2 separate regions of the Homo sapiens genome follow, and region 2 is linked to region 1. The links come from fine-mapping of genetic effects on gene expression. Tissue or cell type: whole blood. Region 1 holds a variant in brackets; the other region holds the start of a gene. All regions are shown on one strand. Distances are between the middles of the regions.

Region 1 (8,154 bases):
GACCTTAGCACACTTGAAGTGGGCAAAGTAGACACAGAATCGGTAAAACATAGGAATCTAAAGTGGGCTGTGGACCTACCACTTGCTTTCAATTTTGTTATCACTTGTCAAGCATGGGGCTAGCCTGTGAGGTTACAAAGATGAGTAAAACAGTGGAGATGGCAGACTAGTATACAGGGAATTGCTGGCATTTTGGAATATTCATTACTTTTAGTTATGGGAAGAAAAACTCTGAAAATGTACAAACAAAACCTAAAGATGACAAACTACTGCTAAAGTTTAAACTTAAAACGTTCTGAAGAATAAAAGGGAATTGCATACTCTTCATTTTAAATAGGGAAGAGTTCACGCAGTTTATTCCTAGCCAGTGGAAAAATCAGTCTTCCCATCATTAGCCCTGAACTACGTACTAGTTATACTATTTAGTAAACAAAATTAAGTGGGGGTAAGAGATCAAATATGAGAAGCTGAAAACTAAGACATTCTTAAGGTTAGAAACACACCGACTAGTACTCTCCTTAGTTCAGAGCCACAGATCTTACCCTCTACTGTAGCTACTGTGCGATAATATGCCTAGAGGGCCAGTCATGGTGGCTCATGTCTGTAATCCCAGCACTGTGGGAGGCTGAGGCGGGCAGATCACCTGATGTCAGGAGTTCAAGACCACCCTGGCCAACACTGTGAAACCCCATCTCTACGAAAAACATATATATACAAAAATGAGACGGGCATGGTGGTGCATGCCTGTAGTCCTAGCTACTCAGGAGGCTGAGGCAGGAGAATTGTTTGAACCCGGGAGGCAGAGGTTCCAGTGAGCCGAGACCGAGATCATACCACTGCACTCCAGCCTGGGCAACGGAGGAAGATTCCGTCCCAAAAACAAAAACAAAAAGAAGCATAGGAAAGGAGACCCACAGTTGAAAACAGAACCCTCCTCTCCACTTCAGGTAATTCTACACTTCTTACCATGTAGTTGCCTGAAGGTGGGATTTCAAAAATGATTTTTTTTATTTTTAAAGACGGACTCTCGATCTGTCGCCCAGGCTGGAGTGCAGTGGTGTGATCTCGGCTCACTGCAACCTCTGCCTCCCAGGTTCAAGCAATTCTCCTGCCTCAGCCTCCTGAGTAGCCGGGATTACAGGTGCCCACCACCACACCTGGCTAATTTTTGTTATTTTTAGTAGAGACGGGGTTTCATCATGTTGGCCAGGCTGGTCTCGAACTTCTGGCCTCAAGAGATCTACCTGCCTTGGCCTCAAGTGCTGGGATTACAGGCGTGAGCCACTGCGCCCAGCCTTTAAAATGATTAACACAAATATTGTAAATATATACATGTAAGCTAGTGCCAAATTATACCAGTGGAGACTTATTTAAATCTGGATTTTGTTGACAATCAGCATGACTTGCCTGGCAAAGAACCACAACTGTCAAGTCCTGCTGGAACACTTTGTCACCATGTAAGAAACAGGGCTGTAACAAAGTCACACATTGAGTTTCCTCAGTTAAGGATTTGAGGTGGGTGGTGGCGCAGGGTCGGGGGGGGTTGGGGGGGTTGGGGGGGAGTCGGAGTGGCAGCAGGGCAAATAAACCATTATGGCACATAAAATAATTACACACATAGAAATATTCTAATTTATATTTTATTGCATTATGAAAATAATACATTTGGCAAAGTAATCTAGGCTCCAAGTTGAAATAAAAGAAAATCCTGAAGAGTGTACTGATTTTTAAAATGTGAAATAGTAAGATGTAGTCTAACCAATACATACTAGCACTCTTATTAGGCCAAAACCCAGCAAACCTAATTTTTATAATTCCATATGAAATTACAAGGTGTTTTGCATTCATTCATTTTATGATTAGCACAAATCTTGAGAACTGACCCTCACCTTCATCAAAACCAATGTTAAATTCCTGTTCAGAAGACAATTTGAAACACTACCGAAAATTTTTAATTCCTTTGGTTTTGTAAGTTGCATTTTCATCCTTACCATGTTACATTTTTTTCATAATCAAACATTGTAGCAGCTTTAGATTCTGCCCAAGTACCTTTAAGTAAACTAGTATATTACATTTACATTATTTGAAAAGTTGATTTTACAAATGCAAAAATGCATAAATACATGCCTATCTACACCGGCAAAACAAAATACTCTGAATCTCAATGCTTTAACAAGCCACACCTTCTGGCCGAGGATTTCTGGGATGCCTTTCCAAGCCACAGGGCCTGGCTGGCAATTCCACTACTCCAAAACACACGTCTGAAAGGTGTAGTTACAATAAACCCTAAGCAGGTTAAATTTATCTAATAATCAACATTTAAAATATGACATTTTCACTACTTCTGCTACATTTTTCAGAACTGAAAATATATTTTTCAAAAATGTACAAGGATATTTTCACTTTTTAAAAGGGAAAAGTGCTAGAAACATAATACATATATATATATATATCTCACTTTCCTCATCACCATCTTCAAATTTTTTTTACATGTTGGGTTATAGTCTAGAGAACAGGTAAGCAATCTGCTCAAGGTCAGAAACAAAATATCTTTAATCACTGAGGTCTCCATTCTTCATTTAGATCTTTTAACAGGACTTTGCTTGATATATGTTAAGAAATATGCCTAAAATCACTTCTGTTCAGAAGTGAATCAGTTACTATTAGAACTGACATTTTCATTAAGCAAAGTCTGTGTTAAGTGCACCTATGAATACCTGCGGAAATTTACTTCCAAATGGCCATCAATATCTAAAACCAGCTGAACAAGGTTTCCCAATTTAACTACAGAAGTATTCCACCTACCCTAAAGATATTCCATGAGCATTCTACAATTATCTGTATAAACAGCAACAAGTTTGATCTATGATCAACATATGAATATCTAATAAATATTAAAACTATTAAACTATAGATTAAAATGCAGATCTCTCATAGAGTTAAGTGATGTCATTTTGGTACATTCACCATTATTGTACTTTATTTAATAAAGAAATACATTTGCCCTTGCAAATATAGCAATTGCAAGTTTACAAATAAAACCACAGACCTCAAAGTCATAATGCTAAATCTTCAACTTACAACCAACAAAAGTAAATCAATTTGTTTACAAATGGTCCATGGCACTACAATTAAAATAAAAAATATCAAAAGGTCACAGGATCTTAGGTAAGTTTACTGACAATTTCATAAATATTCAAAAGAAAATTTCAAAATTTGTAAACTTAAATTTGCCTCATTTTAACATTTTTGAAAAA[T/A]TTTTTAAAAATTTACAATGGTTAATTTTTCTCCCCTCTTGGGTATAGTAAATCAATATTCAGATTTTATTTCAACTATTAGACATAGTCATAAATATATCATCTAGCTGTTGTGAACCTGACAGTCAAGTCAGTCAGTAGTATATTATCCTACAAACATAAATGGATCCAAATCGTTTTGGTATTTATAGCCATGATGATTTAAGTAGTCAAAACGCAAAACTTGTGGTTGCCCCCCAAATCACCCAAAAGCATATTATACAGTGTCAGAAACTGTTTGCATCAGTTTTAGAAGCTCATCTGTGTAGTTCAGGTATCTGAAACTAAAAAAGGGGGGATTCTTTCATATTTTGATAAAAATGTAGTCAAATATTTCATAACATTAATATTTATTGCTTTATATGAATACTGTATTGAAAGCCCAAGCATTCAGTTTACACACAGAAATTATACAATTATATACCGCTTCACAAAGGCAGTGAACACATTACATTCTACAAAATCTACTTTACAGAAATTTAAAAACTTTAAATATCAAAAGGTACAGCTGAAGAAACAGGTATAAATTTGGCAGCCAGTAATTTTGACAGGGAAGTTACAGCTTGCATGACTTTAAATATGTAAATTTGAAAATACTGAATTTCGAGTAATCATTGTGCTTTGTGTTGATCTGAAAAATATAACACTGGCTGTCGAAGAAGCATGTTCAAAAATATTTAATTCACTTCAAAATGTCATACAAATTATGGTGGTTTCTATGCACCCCTAAAGCTTCAGTCATTTAGCTCAGGTACATACTAAAGTAATATATTAATTCTTCCAGTACAGTGGTGTTTCATACCATTGACATTTGCATACCCTAGAATAATTTAGAAAGACATGTGTAATATTCACAATGTTCAGAAAAGCAAGCAAAAGGTCAAGGAACCTACTTGGTTCTTCTGAGATGGTCTCATATCAGCTTCATAAACATTCATTCTACAAAATAGTAAGCTAACATTTGAACACAATTTCCAAGATAAAGCATATTTTCTCATAAATAATGAAGTCTTTTTCTCAGGCACCTCAGAAGTATACAAAAGAATTTGAGTTTGAACAGATCTCTTGGAATGTGTTTAACCTGGTATTTCAACAGACTTAAGATTTCCAGGGTTTCACAAGGGCCAGATTTTATTTCAATTACTCAGAAGAGAAAGAAAATGTCTTCTGAAAGAGGTGAACTCAATCATTACCAATAGAAAAAGTATCCACTGTATTCATCTCTTATAGAAACAGAAAAATATAACATTTCCCCCCTTAGAATTATATATATATATATATATATATGTATGTATATATGACTTAAAGTTCCATTGTACGTAGCCAAACAATAAAATCTGGAAACCAGCATGAAACCCTATAATTCACATGTTAAAATGTTGAAACTATGACCAAAATATGAAAACTGCTAGAGCTATCAGAAAGAGACAAGACAAAAAGCTTCTTGCATATGTATAAACTAAATGTGATAATCTCAAAAAACTTTTCAAAATTGTAATTACTTTCCAGTTTAAAAACTTCAATCCTAAATTAAAAAAAAAAAAAAATCTATACACAAACCACTGATTTGCCCAGACCAAAAAAAGAAAGAAAGAAAAGTCAGCGGTAAGGTAAGCAGGACCCAGAGGAGCTGATATTCACAGTTCTTACATGTACAACTCTTTCAGGAATTATCCATAAAGTACTTTATTTTACAACCTGCTTCTCTTGTAAAACTAAAGGTCCATTTTATTACACAAAAGTTTTATACAGTGTTAAAACCAGAACTGTATGTAAAATACTGCATCTAAATGTTTCTAAATAGTTAGTCTTGTTCCATTGGTTCATCGGTGACTTCTGTGGCTTCGTCATCATTTTCCATGGATGATTCTGAAAGAATCTCTCCAGTTTTACTGGAATTGGATCCTACTAATTCTTCTGTTTCACGGCAGTCAGAAGAACTACTACTTACAGGGCCTTCGTTTTCACTACCTTCAGAATGTAGCAAATCTTTCTCAGCTTGAGACACATCAGATTCCTCCATTTGATTATTTTCCTCAGAAGTCTCTTCATTCACAGTTAAGGCATCATCAGATTCTTTTTCTTGATTTTTTCTTTCTGGGATCATTTCTCTTGATGTCATAAAAGACTCTAAAAATAAGCAAATGTTGTTGTAGTTAAATTGTATTTTCAAAATACCTCCACAGTTAAGTTTCATGAATTCTGATATTCTATAGTTCAAATCACATCCCCTGAAATTCAGCAGCAACTACATACAGGTGGGAGAAAAGCCCAACATCAGCATTATAAGGAGTTCCATTACGTAAAATTCTTTCACGAAAAAAATGAAGTACAAGAATTTGAGGATCTCCTTACTCCACCCTTTTACAGATGGTCTCTAAATACCTTCTTCTTCCTCTTCATCCTCTTCTTCATCCTCTTCTGTACAGTGCTGCCGGGTACAACGGCTATCTTTGTCTTTATCCTGAGATGAAGATGATGCTTCTGTTTCTCCTACCATAACTGAAGAAATTTCGCTGGAAGTCGTTTGACTGGCTGTTTCTCTGACTTCACCTTCTTTGTCAAACCTGAGTCTTTTTACCTCATGCCCCTCAGCTTCCACAGCATCTTCATCTGGATGTTTATTTTTCAAAGGGCTCACTGAGGAAACTTCTGATTCAGAGGTCGAAGAGTCACTGTAAATGTTTTTTTAAAGTGTCATTAATAAGATTATTTTCCCCATCTTCTACATCCCCATTTTTAAGGTTAAATAATGTTTTAAATTGTATTTCAGTGTCAAAGTTAAATTATAACACCTGAACAAAGAAAAACACAAGAGAATAATTTCAAGGTAAACTAAACTGTTTGATGAATAATTCCCAGTAGGACTCAGAAAAGCTATATGACCTTTCTGTGCAATTCTCCAGTAAGTTAAATATTCTCCTACAATAAACCCGCAAGTCTTCCATACGGACATACTCTCTTAAGTCCTCTCCCTCATTTAGTCTTCCTTCCCTTAATGTGATACAGAAAATTTGAAGATATAAACAAAAGGTGTCCTTTTATGAACTACAATGAGAAACGACTCACAAAAATCAACTTATTTATAAAGATCATTTCTTTTCAAGTAACTTTCAGAAACAACAAATGAAATGGATCATCATATCTACGTTACTTTTAGACCCTACATAAACAGTCTCCACAAATTAGCAGTTTTAAGTCTTGTCTATGTCCACCTTCAACATTTGCTACAGCTGCAAAGAGAAGCCAGTGCTCCTATAAACCGCATGAAAACCTTGTTCTGTCCCTCAGAACTTATAAATAGTAAGTGATAAGTACTGATTAAATGTTAACTTTAACTTTTAATAAAAACACTGTTTTTAAATATAAAACATACAAACCTGTGATTTTTCTCCTCATTTTGCTGCAAATTTGCCTCTTTGCTGTCTGTGCTCTCAGGCAACCCATTTGTTGTCATGGGGGCTGACAAAGAAACCTTTGGTCGATTAAGTGGCCTGGGTGTCCCAGGCCCATTTATATTAGACCTATAATAAGATAAATGAACATCATTTCCTATTTTTATAAAAAGTCATCCCTCTTAAGGTATGTTGATGTGAATACATCACAGAAGTATTTGCTGCAACTTTGTTTTCAGGCCCATGCCTTACCAAATTAACTAATTCTATGTAGTTCATCCTATGGTGTCCATAAAATGCCCAATTTTTAAAAAGTACACTAAGCCTGCTACTCAAAATCAGGACAATGCAAACTCTGTAGGTATTAAAAATCTAGAATCTCACCTCTCAGTATAGCTTGGTGAATTTCCAGGAAACATAACACCATTCATTCGATTTAAACTATTGGAATTGTTTTTCCTATAAGAAAAGAAAATACACTTGTGGATGACTTAATTTTTTTTTAGATGGAGTCTGGCTCTGTCACCCAAGGTGGAATGGAGTGCAGTGGTGCAATCTCAGCTCACTGCAACCTCCACTTCCCAGGTTCAAGCAATTCTTATGCCTCAGCCTCCCAAGTAGCTGGGATGACAGACGTGTGATGCCATGCGCAGCTATTTTTTTTATTTTTAGTAGAGACGGGGTTTTGCCATGTTGGCCAGGCTAGCCTCAAACTCATGACCTCAAGTGATCGGCCCACCTCGGCCTCCCAAAGTGCTGGGATTACAGGCGTTAAGCCACCACACCTGGACTTTTTTTTTTTTTTTTTTTTTTAAATAATGAGAATTAGTTCATGTTAGGAGTGCATGGATCTATGATTCCACCCAACACTCCCCCCTCAAGATCTTACGGGGTAGATGCCATTTGAAGCAAAGGGAGTGTGATGGTTGATCCTGGTATAACATCAGGAGCTTTAAATCCCAAAAATGTGGGGTTGCTCATCTTGGCCCAGTAGTTTGCCGCTGTTGCTAAGTTTGGGAACATTCGTGGTGACAGCTCCCCAATAATGGGGTGGCAAAGTACACCCCCAAACTCAAAATATTTCCCCAATGCCTTTTTAACCATTGTTTTTTTTCTCCTCAAAGACTGGGATCTCAGACACAATGGCCCGTAGAGCAATGGAGCCATCCATGCACTGATCTAGAAACATTCTCACAGCATTAATAGGTTGTCATCTGTGCTTTCTTGGCAACTAACTTGACTTGCGTAGCTTGTGTAGAGGGGATTCAAAGTCTCCAAATAGAAGTGTGAACATTAATTCTCCAACCCATGGTCTTGAGCTGATCCAACCTATGGCTGATTCTGCATTGCAGCTGATTAGCAGATCAGCACTCTCACCATGTGAAAGTCTTCCAATAGATGCCATCATTGCCTTGAATCGTCTCTGAACTTGGAGACTGCTGGTGCAAATCTTATCACTTGAT
Region 2 (8,185 bases), 71 kb after region 1:
AGTGCTGAGATACAGGCATGAGCCACCACATCCGGTGGAAATGCTTATCTTAAGCAATCCACCCATCCTAAAACATCAGAAAAGTCTAAATTGCTGTTCTTTAAATTTTCATTTTCATTCTCTCGTTACAATCTCACATACTAGACAAAGCTTAGTTTAGCCATAAATAGGTAGCAGAAACTCTGCAAATGTCAGTATCAAAGATATGCCATGTTGATAAAAAGAAATCAAAGCTTAAAGCTAAATGCATAAACACTGGCTGCTATTTACATAATAAAATAAAAAATATTTTCCAAATTCCATTGAATATAAGAATCTAACTACACCAATCATTTCAGTACAAAACATGCTTAGTGAATACATAAACACCGAATATGGGGTGGAGGATTGGGAATTTTAAGTCCTCTTCTACCAGGATAAAATAACTGTCCAAAAAAAATCAGATAACTTCCCCAGCCACTTGGTGTTCCAGTAAGACAGGATATTAAAAAGCTATCTTTTAGAAACTTTCAATTATTTATACATTTATAGGCAATGTACTTTATCAAAAAGGGAAAGCAGTGTGTACAAACCTGATAAACTGAGTAAGACGTTTTAAGTACTCATCTCCAAATAGTTTGATATCATCTTGTATATCAAAAAACAGCCAAAAGTAAAATGCTATTTGGCTTGACATTGTTGACAGGGCTAAGTCTGTGCCGACTAGCAATTCAAGAGGAATAGTGGCAGTCTAAGCATTTATGTTTTAGGGATTAATTTATTTTTGAAAGATGGCATGTGGTCATTTTTAGGCTTATCTATATAAGCACAAATTAACAGTTTTACATTGTTCTAAATCAAGATGTTCTATATGAAACCCTAATGCGAAGGTAAAAATGACTTCCCCCGCCCAGAGGGTCCCATTTTTTAATGTAATAAATAGAAATACAACATTGAACACATCACACTGACGTTCTCAAAATGACTGGTGTATTTTAATAGAATACTAAGGAGACTCAGCTTGCAGGCATGACCATTAAATCAAGCACTGAGGCAGCAAAGGTTTTTTTCTTTCTAAAATTAGGCTAGTTGTTAAAAGGCTAGACTACAAATAAGCAAATCTTGTGAGAAATGAACACTTGCTAATAATAAAGCCAGAGAAATTATACAATTCTTGCTGAAAGCTACACTCATACTGGGCAGATAACCCACTTATTAACATTGAAACCATAGAAACCTACCCCTTTCCTGCTGCCCCAGCCCCCACCCAAAGACTACAAAAAGAAGTCATCAAAGATGCACTGTTGTCTACAAATAAACTTAGCCAGATTGTGTCTACCACACAAACTGCAAAACAATGACCTGGAATGTTCCTTCTGAACACAGCCCTAACTTTATAGCGTAAGTTTCAGATTCAGAACATTTGGAAACGAGCTGAATAAAATGCTGAGCATATGTAACAAGTCAGCTATCTTAGAAAGTCTACAAGTCAAAACTGTAGCATCTGGAATTTGTCAGATAATAACAGAGTCCTCCAGACGATAAATAGAAGTGACACTTTAAACACCTACATATGCAAATATGACCAAAAAAAGGCTGGACACACGACAATATGAGAAAATACCACCAAGACTCTGAAACAGAATCAAAGCCACAAAATTCTAGGAATAAGCCTATTTGTTATGGCCAAAAAGGGTCATAATGGAATAGGCATTCTTCCTTTCTCTGGCTCGTTAAGACTAATACATTCTCTAAGCGTGCCAAAGCCTAGCTATAAAGAAAATTTTAACATACACAGGTTTTTAAAATCCGTTACAGACCATGTATAAAGTAAGTAAGCGTATACGTTCTTTAAATGTAAATATATAAATTATTTAAATGACCAGGACTTCTACAATTTAGAATGAATTATTTAATTATCCCAAAATATACTTTTTTCCCTTTCCTGAGCAATTCTTAATAATGCACTGGTCTATAACGACAAATGCATGTTTTCAACTCACATTGTTTCTCCAGTCTTGGCTACATGACAAAGAAACTGATCCAGGACAGGACAAACTTCCTTTTTCCCCCTCTTCTCAAAATCTAGATGAAGGAAGAAAAAAAAACGTTATCAGTTTTCTCAAAAGCGCTCTAAAAACAAACTTTCCTCCTAGTCCTTTACCTTATTAAAAATCAATTAAATACAAAATTAAAAAAATAAGGCCTCTCAACCAAATTACCACCTCAATCCTCCAAGTTCTACTTCCAACATGTCACCCTCTTTACAGATAACAAGAATCCTCCTAAAGGGGGCACTCAACTTCACAAACCATTTTTAACGCAGTGCTTCTCGAAGTGTGGTCCGGGGGAACACCAGCATTATATTAAGCTGGGAATCCAGTGAAAATAAAAATCCCCAGGCCCCGACTCCCACCAATTGTTCATCTAAGTCCATAAATCTGCCTTTCTAAGAAGCACCAACTACCCCAAGTTGCCGTCCCCAAATGATTCTGAATGTCAAAGAATAATTCTCAAAACGCTGAAATCTCTCTACTCGAAGTTTGTAAGCCACTGTTCTCAAGCCTGTTGCGTGGAAGGCGTGCAATCAAGAACAGTGAAGGCAACCACCTCGAAATTAGGGCGCGGAAAGATGACTTCAAAAGCCCTGAAAAAGGCATACTGAGACAACTTAAAAGTTGCGATGCTACCCCCTACCCCCGCCCCCACCAACCGTTTACTTTTTCTCCCACCCCAACGCCTAGCGTACGGGTAGCCTGGTGGAGAAAAGAGGATATCTGGGAGGGAGGGGTCTGCGGGTCCGCCACTCGTCCCCTGAACGGGTGGGAGAAAGACTGGGGCCCCCGCAAGAGTTTCCCCGGCTCCCCTCCCCCAGCCCAGACGCCGGCGGCCGACACAAAGCCAGAGCGGGGCGGGAGAGAGCTGCCCACAGGGCTCCCCGCCCCTGGGGAGGTGGAGGGGGATGGGAGCCCGGGAAGCACTCTCCCCACGCCGCGCCCGGCCCCGGTCCTCGGAACCATCCGCCCTGAAAGGAGAGAAGAGCGAGCCGGAGAAGGTGAGGGGGAATGGAGAGGGGGCAGCTACCCCCACCTTTCAGCGCCTCCTGGAGCCTCTCGACGTCCATGGCTTCCCGGAGTCCCTCACAGCCTCCGCCTCCCTCCGCGGGTCTCTTGGGGACCGGAACGCCTCCCCCCACCCCCCCGACGCCCTCCCCCTCCCTCGCACACACTCCGGCACGCAGGCGACCGGGGGGGGGAAACGAAGGGAGCCGGGGGAAGCGTGCGAGAGAGCAAGACCGACAGAGCGAGCACCTCCCCAAGCCGCTACCACCAACCCTCCAACATGGCGCCCGGTACGTCACCGCGCGCACGCTCCCTGCCGCCGTCCTCGCTCCCGCCGCGCGCTCCGGCCCGGAACCCGAGAGCGCGTGCGCGGCCGAGGTGTGACGCTGGGGCCCAGTGGCGTCTGCGTCCCGGCGGCTTCCAGAGCCTCAGCCCCAGCCCCAGCCCCAGGCCCAGGCTCCGCGGAGCTGAAGACTGGACGGTCAGGCGAGAGGGTTGCAGGCGGACTCCTAGGCTTTGAATCCCTGCCATTTCCTCTCTGTGTGAACTTAAGCTACTTACTTCGCCTGTCTGAGCCTCATTTTCCCCATCTGTACAGTAAGGGCACTGGTACTGATGCCCTATGCAGTTGCTGTGAGAATTCAGTGTATACACTTCACGTTCAGAATGCGCCTAAAAAACGTAGAGCGAGGCCGGGCAGGGGGCTCAGGCCGGTGATCCCAACACTTTGGGAGGGAGGCCGAGGCGAGAGGATCGCTTGAGCCCAGGAGTTCGAGACCAGTCTGGGTAACAAAATGACCCCGCTCCCTCGCCCTTCTCTATATAAAAATAAATACAGGCCGGGCGCGGTGACTCAAGCCTGTAATCCCAGCACTTTGGGAGGCTGGGGCGGGCGGAGCACCTGAAGTCAGGAGTTGAAGACCAACCTGGCCAACATGGCGAAACCCCGTCTCTACTAAAAATACAAAATGTAGTCGGGCGTGGTCGCTCGTGCCTGTAATCCCAGTTACTCGGGAGGCTGAGGCACGAGAATCGCTTGAATCCAGGAGGCGGAGGTTGCAGTGAGCCGATATCGCGCCACTGCCTCCAGCCTAGGCGACAAAGCGAGACTGTTTCAAAAAAATAATAATAAAATTAACAATACATACATACACTAAGCATTGCTAATAATCCTAACAAGAATACCTCCCTGCTTAACCCAACGTTCGTTCGTCACTGGCCCACCTGTGGCAAGAAGTAATGTATACAGCAAAGTCATTAAGAGCTCAAGGTTTGGAATCAATATTCAAATCCCAACTCAACTACTTACTCCTTGTGTGGCCCTGAAGTAGTTACCTAAACTCAGGCAGCTTCAGGGTTCTTATTTATAAAATGAGGGTTGTAAAACGGCCACGAGGATTGAGTGAAATGGCAAATGTGAAACATTTGGCACAGTGCGTGAAACCTGGAACACTCAACGTGGCTGGGTTTTTATTACCACTGTTAGCATTATTACATGACATAATCTCCCAGGAGGTAGGAGAGGGCGGAAACCTCAGAAGTCCTCTGCAGCCCTGACATTTTACAAATGGGAAAGCTGTGTCACAGACAGCAAGTCTGGGGAGACAGAACTAGAACCCAGAACCCAAATCATCTGGCTCCCAGCCAGTGCGTGGACATTTTTATACTCATCTGTGAGCTTTTAAAAGAAAAGGTACTGCCCGGGCACGGTGGCTCACACCTGTATTCCCAACACTTCGGGAGTCTGAGGCAGGCGGATCACCTGAGGTCAGGAGTTTGATACCAGCCAGGCCAACATGGCAAAACCCTGTCTCTGCTAAAAATACAAAAAAAAAAAAATTAGCTGGGCTTGGTGGCGGGCACCTGTAATCGCAGCTACTCGGGAGGCTGAGGCAGGAGAATCCCTTGAACCCTGGAGGCTGAGGTTGCAGTGAGCCGAGATACTCCAGCCACTGTACTCCAGCCTGGGCACGACAGAATGGGACTCCGTCTCAAAAAAAAAAAAAAAAAAAAAAAAAAGAGAGAGAGAGAAAGAAAAGAAAAGGTACTGCGTTGTTCCACCTCCTCTTCCCAAAACCCAGCATAGCACAAAGTCATGGAAGGAAGGAGGGGAGAGAAGGACCAAGGGAGGGAAGGAAGGTTATTGTTTGGTCTAAGAAGATGCAAGTTTGGACACAGCCTTTACACTGTTGACCCTCTTAAAAGACAGTGGGTCTGACCCTGATCCTAGGTGGTAGATGTAGGCAAAAGACATTCACACCCAAAATAGCTCTCTCAAATTGTGCCATCAGAGAACCAGTCCCCTGTGTCTTTAGACCTTCGTTGTTCAGAGCATCTAGCTCAATTACAAATATCCTTGCAGAGAGAGGGAATAGGGTAGCACATCAAGCACTTGGCCAGCACTTGCCAGGCACCAGGTTTAGTTTATCCAGGTCCCTTCCAGTCTGAAAGGGCCTACTGCCTACATGGCAAAGCTTAGCCTCTCCTTCTATCTGCCACTCTACTATTCAGAAGGGTCTCTTACTGTAAGAGCTCTGCTGTACAGTAGATATTAGCCATGTGTGAATATTGAAATTTAAATTAATTAAAATTAAATAAAATTTAAAATTCAGTTCCTGAGTTCTTCAATAAAAATCCAATTCTTTTTTTTTTCTTTTTTCTTTTCCTTTTTTTTTTTTTGAGACGGAGTCTTGCTCTGTCGTCCAGGCTGGAGTGCAGTGGCGTGATCTCAGCTCACTGCAACCTGTGCCTCCCGGGTTCAAGCAGTTCTCTGCCTCAGCCTCTCGAGTAGCTGGGATTACAGGCTCCCACCACCACGCCCAGCTAATTTTTGTATTTTTAGTAGAGACGGGGTTTCACCATATTGTCCAGGCTGGTCTTGAACTCTGGACCTTGTGATCCACCCGCCGCAGCCTCCCAAAGTGCTGGGATTACAGGTGTGAGCCACCGCCCCTGGCCTAAAAATCCAATTCTTTGGTCACACCAGCCACATTTTAAGTGCTCAGTAGCTACATGTGGCTAGTGGCTCCTGTATTGGATAGTTCAGATAAAGAAAATTTCATTATTGCAAAAAGTTCTATTGGAACTTTCTGTTGGAGAACACATTATGCTAATTTCTAACACTGTTTTGTCCCTTTCATTGCTGTCAGCTTAACTGAATTTCTTATGGTTTTTCAGATCCCACCTGGTCTTCAGATAATCAAGGCTTGTGCCCCTCTGGTTAGCTCCTCCTCTCCAATGCACTTTGCTACATTCCTCTGCAAATTCAGATCTCTACTTAAACACCACTTCCTCTGGTACACTTTCCACGATTCCCTTAGGCTGTCATTGCTGTGTGCACTTTGTCGCCCGTCATAGACCTTATCCAGTGTCTGGAAGTCAAGATTACAAGGGGAGAAGAGGCAAAAGATGAGGCTGAAAAAATAACTTCGTTTGGTTCATTCCTTCCTTCTTCCTTGAATTCTTCTCCAGCCGGCCTGTATCACAATGTCTGCAATTACTAGAGCCTCCTACTGGCTGGGCATGGTGGCTCACACCTGTAATCTCGGTACTCTGGGAAGCCAAGGCTGGAGGATCACTTGAGACCAGCCCAGCAACATGTCTCTACAAAAAATAAAAAATTACCAGGGGTAGTGGCGCACACCTGTAGTACTAGCTACTTGGGAGGCTAGGAGGATTACTTGAGCCCAGGAATTTAAGTCTGCAGTGAGCCGGGATCATGCCACTGTAATCCATCCTGGGCCACAAACATAGTGAGACCCTGACTCAAAAATAAAAAATAGAATAATAAGCCTCCTACTGATGCCGATTTCCTGGGAAGAAAACAGAATACAAATGTGGCAACCAGCCCCCACAATTACCCCTCATGATCCTCACTTGCTGAGATTCATGCCCTAGTATAATCAGGCACACCAAATCACAGCTGTCTGTGTGAAGGCACTAGGGCTTCTGCCTTGGCCTCTTGAATTGGTAAATGGGGCCTCAATGGGGGAAGCCAGCTGCCATGTCATGAGAACATTAGACAGTCTTGTGGAAAGGCCCCACAGAGAGAAGAACTGTCCTTGAAGGTGGATCCTCCAGCCTCAGGAATTCCTTCAGGTAACTGCAGCCCCAGCTGACATCTGGATCACAACCTTAGCAGACATCCCACACTAGAGCAGCCCATCTAAGTCACTTCCCAATACCTGATCCACAGAAACTGTAAAAGGTGACAATGTCTATAACTGTTCTAAGCCTCTAAATTTTAGAAACTAATGCAACAAATAAGAAATTTAATAGTAACAGCTAATATTTATTAAATACTTTCATGTGTCTGGCATTCTCCTAAGCAGTTTACAAAACTATCAAAAAGTGTCTCCTAAGCAGTTTACAAAAGTATTTAATTGAATCCTCACAAAATCCTATGAGGATCCTCCTCACTTAACAGAAAAGAAAACTGAAATATAGAGGCCCAGCACAGTGGCTCACGCCTGTAATTCCAGCACTTTGAAAGGCCGAGGCGGGTGGATCACCTGAGGTGAGAAGCTGGAGACCAGCCTGGCCAACGTGATGAAACCCCATCTCTACTAAAAATATGAAAATTAGCTGGGCGTGGTGGTGGGCGCCTGTAATCCGAGCTACTCGGGAAGCTGAGGCAGGAGAATTGCTTGAACCCAAGAGGCAGAGCTTGCAATGAGCCAAGATCACGCCACTGCACTCCAGCCTGGGTGACAAGAGCGAAACTCAAGAAAGAGAGAGAGAGAGAGAGAGAGAGAGAGAAGGGAGGGAGGGAGGGAAGGAAAGAAGGAAAAGAAAAGAAAAGAAAGAAAGAAAAAGAAAGAAAGGGAAAGAAAGAAAACGGAAATATAAAGAGGTGAAATTGCTTGCACAAAATCACACAACTACATAGGCAGGTGACTGACCCATGATTCAAACCTAGACTGGCTTCAGAGCCCCCAAACACTTTCTTGTCCTCAAGAAGTTTGCAAAATACTAGGAAAGATAAGATGTAAGTGTAGGCCCTCATGCAAGGTAGAAGGCAAAGCTGTGTATCAGATATTCAGAGGCCTGCAAAATTTCTTCCAGGAAGAGATGGAAGGGTCTCACTTAAAGACTGGAAAAGATTTGTACGGACAGAGAAGAGCCCTCCTGGCAGAGGGAATGGT

The links. PIP is the estimated chance that this variant, and not a neighbour inherited with it, causes the effect.
Region 2: PPP4R2 starts here. The variant in region 1 is fine-mapped to the expression of PPP4R2 in whole blood (TOPMed, PIP 0.97).

Annotation. Positions count from the first base shown.
Region 1 is chr3:73,062,669-73,070,822 of GRCh38, reverse strand. PPP4R2 (protein phosphatase 4 regulatory subunit 2) reads right to left here. Exons shown (of 9, transcript NM_174907.4): 6 at 7,076-7,150; 7 at 6,677-6,820; 8 at 5,682-5,971; 9 at 1,625-5,426. The coding sequence ends at 5,101. EBLN2 (endogenous Bornavirus like nucleoprotein 2) reads right to left here. Exons shown (of 1, transcript NM_018029.4): 1 at 7,486-8,154. The coding sequence ends at 7,923. Among named protein-coding and RNA genes, the nearest start is that of EBLN2, 5.1 kb to the right of the region's middle. The variant T/A (reference allele first, on the strand shown) is at 3,258.
Region 2 is chr3:72,991,956-73,000,140 of GRCh38, reverse strand. PPP4R2 (protein phosphatase 4 regulatory subunit 2) reads right to left here and starts at 3,330. Exons shown (of 9, transcript NM_174907.4): 1 at 3,070-3,330; 2 at 1,983-2,064. The coding sequence starts at 3,103. It overlaps LOC124909395 (a long non-coding RNA gene), which reads left to right and starts at 2,950. Exons shown (of 2, transcript XR_007095961.1): 1 at 2,950-3,034; 2 at 6,219-6,681. RefSeq lists enhancers at 2,346-2,395, 3,656-3,705 and a silencer at 2,846-3,475.